2 linked regions of the Homo sapiens genome follow. The protein of the gene in region 2 interacts with the protein of the main gene of each other region in a pairwise test. Each region holds a gene or a part of one and is shown on either strand. Other genes may lie near its edges.

The links. Proteins that work in one complex are often made in the same cells at the same time.
Region 1: the proteins of SMCO1 (region 2) and SGK3 interact in a two-hybrid assay, tested with the Homo sapiens proteins (one large-scale study listed by BioGRID).

The regions. Positions count from the first base shown.
Region 1 is NC_000008.11:66,834,781-66,838,280, reverse strand, and holds part of SGK3 (serine/threonine-protein kinase Sgk3), read right to left. Parts: intron 2,519-3,500; coding exon 2,435-2,518; intron 2,339-2,434; coding exon 2,207-2,338; intron 1-2,206. Other genes in the region: C8orf44-SGK3 (serine/threonine-protein kinase Sgk3), read right to left, coding at 2,207-2,338, 2,435-2,518.
Region 2 is NC_000003.12:196,512,547-196,516,552, forward strand, and holds the start of SMCO1 (single-pass membrane and coiled-coil domain-containing protein 1), read right to left. Parts: upstream 2,801-4,006; 5' UTR 2,664-2,800; coding exon 2,614-2,663; exon of another isoform or gene 2,584-2,613; coding exon of another isoform or gene 2,558-2,583; intron 1-2,557.

The DNA.
Region 1 (3,500 bases), on a different chromosome or scaffold from region 2:
CACCCTGGCCAACATGGCGAAACCCCGTCTCTACTAAAAATACAAAAATTAGCTGGGCGTCATGGCACGTGCCTGTAATCCCAGCTACTCGGGAGGTTGAGGCAGGAGAATCGCTTGAACCAGGGAGTTGGAGGTTGCAGTGAGCTGAGATCGCACCACTGCACTCCAGCCTGGTGACAGAGAGAGACTCCGTCTCAATAAATAAATAAGAAAGAAAATTTCATGGCATTTAATATAAATGCCATGGCAAATTAAATGGGCATAATAGTGTTTTCTGAAAGAGTTGTGATTTACTGACATAATGCATGTAAAATAATTGCAAAGTGCCAAGCCTCAATAAATTCTCTTTATCTGTCAGCACTTGGGCACACACAAAATTAAACGACAACCTTCAAGGTGAAAACAATGTGGGGTCACCTGCATCAATGAATCAGGATGCCTGAGAGATGGATAATCTTGCCTCTACACTGAAGAGTCTTAAGGGAATTTTTTTTTTTGACACAGGGTCTTGTTCTGTCACCCAGGCTGGAGTACAGTTGTGTGATCATGGCTCATTGCAGCCGCAACCTCCTGGGCTCAAACAATCCTCCCACCTCAGCCTCCTGAGTAGCTGGGACTACGGAGGCATGTCACCATGCCCAGCTAATTTTTGTTATTTTTTTTGTAGAGATGGGGTTTCGCCATGTTGCCCAGGCTAGTCTTGAACTCCTGGGCTCCAGTGATCCACCCACATCGGCCTCCCAAATTGCTGGGATCATAGGTGTTGAGCCACCACACCTGGCCTTAAGGGACTTTTGTGACAGATGTAGAAAGGTGAATAATCATTCTTTTTACAATCTTCCCCCAAAATGATCTAGGTGTGTCTGACCATCTTTCGGTTTTGCAGAATATTAACTAATTTTCCTTACAGTTCCTTTCTTCTACAGTTAAATGCTGAAATAGTCATTTTCTGCTCAGAGATTGGGGAATGAAAGATCCCTTTGTAAAGATATGACAATACCTATTAGTTAAAAAAATTTTTTAGACATTCACAGTTCAAAGACCAAACAAATTAGAAAGGTGTGAGGGTTGAGAGGTCAGCTGCCTAGATCCTGGAATCAGGCTGCCTCAGTTCAATCCCTGCCTCTGATACTAACCACATTACTTCTACAAGCTACCTAGCTTCTCTGTGCCTCAGTCAGTCTTACTATAGATTGTTGTGAAGGTAAAATTATATGTACAAAGAGCCAGAGTGATGGATACTAAGTAATACTCAATGGAAGTTAGTTATTATTGTAATTATTGTAATAGCAGCATTTCCCAAAGTGTATTTCAATATCCATCTGAATCAGAGTTTTGTGTAATACTTAAGAGATTGGTTGAAACAAAAAAGGGGACTGCACGGTTTTAAAAAATTCTCTTAAGATATCCAATTTGAGGAGGTTGAGGCTGTAGCGAGCTGTGACCACTGCACTCCAGCCTGGGTGACAGAGTGAGACGCTGTCTCAAAAAAAAAAAAAAAAAAAAAAAGATATCCTGACTTTGTTTAAGGCAGAATTTCTCGAAGTCTTTAACATGCTGAGGCATATTGTGAATCACCAAGAAATGGATATAACATGAAACATTTCCAAAACAGACTTTATCATAAAGCCTTTTTTTTTTTTTTAAAGAGATGGGGTCTCGTTCTGTTACCCAGGCTGCAGTGCAATCATAGCTTACTGTAGCCTCAAACTCCTGGACTCAAGTGATCCTTCTGCCTCAGCCTCCTGAGTAGCTGAGATTAAAGGTGCGAGTCACTGAGCCAAGCTACCACCACAGAGCCCCTTATTAGAGGATTATCTCATCTGATTAATAATTTGCACATCTTGGAAACTGAGAAGCTGGAGTAATATTTGTATGCAACTGTTGAGATAATTGCCTAAATTACAAATCACATTTTATTCTAATATTTCAATATGTTATTCTTGCTATACAGTTTAGTGACAAACCTGTCCATGAAGCCAGCAGCTTCATATCAAGGTTCTTTTATGAACCTTCTCAACTATACCATATGCTTAAAAGCTCTGTGTTACAATTCTCCACATCCTGTACTCAGCCAGTACCTTGAATATTATTGCTATAAAAAGCTACTGATTTTATACTGTCCTTCTAAAACTTACAAGAAAAACTTTGACTTTATGCTATTTTTCTAAACTATTAACATTAGAAAACTCATTATAAAACTCACCTCCCCTCCATTAACAAAATCCAGAACAAAATAAAGCTTTTCAGTTGTTTGGAAGGAATAATGCAATCCAACCAAAAACGGATGTTTCACATTTTTCAAGAGCACATTACGTTCAGCCATAATATGTTTTTGCTGGAAAAAAGGCAAAAGATCAATTGTATTATACACTAGAAAACAGCTCTCTTAATTGAGAAAATGGGCTTGAGAGAAACAACTATTTTATTTTACCTCTTTTCTGTTGAGAACTATTTTTTTCTGTAACACTTTGACAGCATAAAATTTTCCATCCAGTTTCCGTTTTGCAAGAAGAACCTGTTATAGTTAAACATTAGTGTATACTATTAGAAATTTCAAATTTTGATAGAAATAATTCACTTGTCAACACATCAATACTTCTTAAATTCTGTAAAAAGAAAGTCCATAAGGGACCTAGATCATGTTTTTGTTTTAAAAATCAAGTAATCAGGCACCTTTTCTTTGTCACTTAATGTGTTGATATTTGAGATTTTTTAAACTAAATTTAAGTGCCCAAATCTACACTGCTTGAGAAGTTTGTGTGTGTATGCATGCATGTGCTCCAGCCCTGAATCCTGGAAGTCTCCTGTACTTCCAGGAGAAAATATTGCCTGTAGAAAATATTGTTATAAACTTCATGGCTACATTAACAAGGATAAGGAAATGTTTTTTAGGTAATCAAAATGTACTGTTTCATACTGAGATTTTTCTTAACAGGTTTTAAATTCAGAAGAGTTCAGAAGAAAAAGTGCCATGGATTTCTATAGTGGGCTGGGTCCCATGCAGACGCTTTAAAGAATCTGAAGAAATCTAGAGTATCTTGCAGTGGTGCAATGTTCACTCACTTGCAGCCTTGACCTCTCCAAGGCTCAGGTGATCATCCTGTCTCAGTCTTCCAAATAGCTGGGACTACAGGCGTGTGCCACCATACCTGGCTAATTTTTGAATTTTTTGTAGAGATGGGGTTTTGTCATGTTATCCAGGCTGGTCTCAAACTCCTGGGCTCAAGTGATCCACCTGCCTCGACCTCACCAAGTGCTGGGATAACAGGCGTAAGCCACCGCACCCAGCCTTCTTTTGTTTTACTGCACTTTGTTGGTTTCTTTTTTTTTTTTTTTTTGAGACAGAGTCTTGCTCTGTCGCCCAGGCTGGAGTGCAGTGGCGCGATCTCGGCTCACTGCAAGCTCCGCCTCCCGGGTTCACACCATTCTCCTGCCTCAGCCTCCCGAGTAGCTGGGACTACAGGCGCCCACCACCACACGGGGCTAATTTATTTTTT
Region 2 (4,006 bases):
CTGTCGCCAGGCTGGAGTACAGTGGCACGATCCTGGCTCACTGCAACCTCTGTCTCCCAGGTTCAAGTGATTCTCCTGCCTCAGTCTCCCGAGTAGCTGGGATTACAGGCGCCACCACATCCGGCTAATTTTTGTATTTTTAGTAGAGATGGGGTTTCACCATGTTGGCCAGGCTGGTCTCGAACTCCTGACCTCAGGCGATCCGCCCACCTCGGCCTCCCAAAGTTCTGGGATTACAGGCGTGAGCCACCGCACCCGGCCTAGAGATGTATTTTCAATATGTTTTGTGCATCTCCACAAAGATGGAGATGTCAAACTCAACTCTCCTAAGCTTAACCTACTAATACCTCCCCCATCTTCAGAAATTACTATGAAGAAATGTTGTCACTGCTTTACACATAGATAAGACTCAGTATAAAATGTTCATTTTGTAGGAATAGAAGCCTGTGTGACCTGATATGCCTGTAATTTCTGTCTACAAGTCAAAACCATGTGATTTGAGCTAGGTGCAGTGGCTCACAACTGTAATCACAGCAGTTTGGGAGGCCAAGGTGGGTGGATCACTTGAGTCCAGGAGTTTGAGACCAGCTTGGGCAACATAGTGAGACCTCATCTCTACAAAAAATAAAAAATTAGCCTAGTGTGGTGGTGTGCACACTTGTGGTCCCAGCTACTGGGGAAGCTGAGGTATGAGAATTGCTTCAGCCCAGGAGTTCAAAGCTGCAGTGAGCTGTGATCATGCCACTGCACTCAGCTTGAGCAACACAGCAAGACCCTGTGTCAAAAAAAAAAAAAGAAAGTTGGCCGGGTGCAGTGGCTCACGCCTGTAATCCCAGCCATTTGGGAGGCCAAGGCAGGTGGATCATGAGGTCAAGAGATCGAGACCATCCTGGCCAACATGGTAAAACCCCTTCTTTACTAAAAATACAAAAATTAGCCGGGTGTGGTGATGCACACCTGTAGTCCCAGTTACTCAGGAGGCTGAGGCAGGAGAATCACTTGAACCTGGGAGGCGGAGGTTGCAGTGAGCTGAAATCGCGCCACTGCACTCCAGCCTGGTGACAGAGTGAGACTCTGTCTCAAAAAAAAAAAAAAAAAAAAAGCCATTTGGCATACTATTTTGTGTTAACTTTTAGACCTTTAAGACTATATTGCTTATAGGTCATCTGTAGTTTGAAACTTAGGGAAGAAGTCTAGCTTGTCAATCAGTATAAAAATTTACAGTTGCAGCAGTTCTTTGGAATCCTCTCACCAAAGGACAGTCCGAGGCCGTTCCAGATAAATCTCAACCAACATGCAAATCTCAGCGCAGGCTGTTTTGTTTTGTTTTAGTACAGTTCCCTAGTTTCGTTAATGACCTCACCATCCAATCAATTGCTTGAACTAGAAATCTCAGAATAATTCTCAACTTTTTTCTTCCCCTGATTTATGTCTCTCTAACCCATTCCTGCCTCTCCATCTCCATCAAATGAGTTTCTCATCATCTTTCACTAGGACCCAAGATTACCGTAGCCTAACTGGACCCCCGTTTTCCATTTCCCATCCATCCTCCAGACACATTCTTCTAAAACACAATTCCGATTCTGTGACTCAACTGATTACAAATGGTTTATGTCATCCTGGCTTGCCCAGTGATATACTCAGAGGCAAACTGGATCTCCTCAGCAGGAAAGTCAAGGGCCTTCACCCTTTGCTCCTGTCTTCCACCAGTCCCCTCACCCATCCTAGTTACCAATTACACGAGACATCTAGTTGCTGCTTGAATACATTATGTGGTTCCAAGCTTACATATGGCTTATATGCACTGTTTCCTCAGCCTAGAATGCCTTCCCATATTTTTCTCCCTCATAAGCTCCTACTTGCACTTTAAGATCCAGCTTAAATGACCCTATATGAAGAGTTCCTTTTTCTAGTGTCAAAGGCAAAATTGGTTGATCCTCCCTTCATGTTCGCATAGACCTTTAGGAACATCACCATTGTAAGGTCAGTCACATTAAATTGTAAATGTTTTTCAAACTTTTCTCTTTCCTACAGGCTGTGAGCTCCTTGAGGGCAGAAACCACATTTTACTTATTTTTGTAAATCTAGGATTTAGCATATGCATACATTCAATGGAGTTACAGCACCTGGGAGCAGACTTTTCTTTATTGTTAATTTACATAGGTTTGGGCCTGGAAGACTTAAACCACTGTAATAGAGACGGAATTCTTTTTTTGGACGGAGTCTTGCTCTGTTGCCAGGCTGGAGTGCAGTGGCACGATCTCGGCTCACTGCAACCTCCACCTCCCGGGTTCAAGTGATTCTCCTGCCTCAGCCTCCCAAGTAGCTGGGACTACAGGCGCCCGCCACCATGCCTGGGTAATTTTTGTATTTTTAGTAGAGGCAGGGTTTCACCATGTTCGCCAGGCTGGTCTCAATCTCTTGACCCTGTGATCCGCCCACCTCGGCCTCCCAGTGTGCTGGGATTACAGGTGTGAGCCACCGCACCGGCCACAGAGACAGAATTCTAATGAGCATGTCTGCAGTTCTTTATTTCTATTCTTCATTCTTCTCTTACCCATCTTCCCAGAATAGCAGACCCATGCTTGCTCCCTCCCTATAGCCCTCAGCAACCTTTTCATTGCCTCCTTCAAGGATATCAGGGTTGTGGTTTCATTGTTCATCTTCTGAAGGCAAAAGGAAAGAAAACAAAAACAAAGCAAAACAAAAAAAGCAATAAATGTTTGAATCCAGAATTTTCTGCGGTCTTCCTCTCAGCAACAGGCAGCAGTAGCAGGAGCGCTCAGTCTACATTCTGCCTGAAAGGTCACTCAGTACAAGAAGCTTTTAATAGCCTGCAGATCCAAATATAGTTTCAAAGAACTTATCTCGTGGACACAGGTGTCCTGGAATGCACTATAACATTTGCCTTTGAAAACTGAACCATAGTACATTAACATACAGCAACAACCATGTATAATTAATGACTGTGTACATTATGGTAAATGTATATACAGATACATTAACGTAACGTATAGGATTAAGTTTGATGGAAATATTACTGTCATATTTTAACTGCTTCATTATTCAATTACAACCTAAATTAGGTTTGAAGAGTGCCCCAGATCTTTTATGATGATGATATCAAAGCAAAAAATCTAACTATCATTAGAAACTACTAAATACTTGTTATGGCTGGGTATGGTGGCTCACTCCTGTAATCCCAGCACTTGGGGAAGCCAAGGTGGGAGGATTGCTTGAGCCCAGGAATTCAAGACCAGCCTGGGCCACAGAGCGAGACTGTCTCCACAAAAAATACAAAAATTAGCCAGGAGTGGTGGTGCATGCCTGTAGTCCCAGCTACTCAAGAGGCTGAAGTGGGAGGACTGCTTGAGCCCAGGAGTTCGAAGCTGCAGTGAGCTATGATCATGCCACTGCACTCCAGCCCGGGCAAGAGGATAGGATATATATATATATATATATATATATATATATATATATATATAATTATATATAAAATTATACATATAATTATATATAATATATAATTTATATCGTATATAAAATATATATATAATTTTATATAATTATATATATATTAGATTAGGAATTGAATATAAATGTGGAAATAAAATAGGACTGCTGTTTTCATGAGATTTAAAATCTAGTTGGGAAGAAAGAATATATCCTTAAATAGAAAATGTATATGGGATGTGTGCTAAGTAGATAGAGACCATAAAAATAATAGAAGGTGAGAGACTAAGTCACTGAAATCTTGGGTCCTTGGGGAGATATTCACCCTGAAGGTGGTACTTGGCTTGGCCTTAAAGGTCAAGGTCTTTGATTATCAGAGAAGAGTGTTAAGGGTGTTACGAACTGGAGAAATTGTGTGAGCAAAATCACAGAGGTGGCAAAGTAAATGATGTGTTCAGGAAACAATGAGTAGGTATGTTTTGAGCAAAAGATTCATATAAGAAAAAGAAAATAACCACACCATTTAAACTGGTAAGAGCCATGTCACGTATTT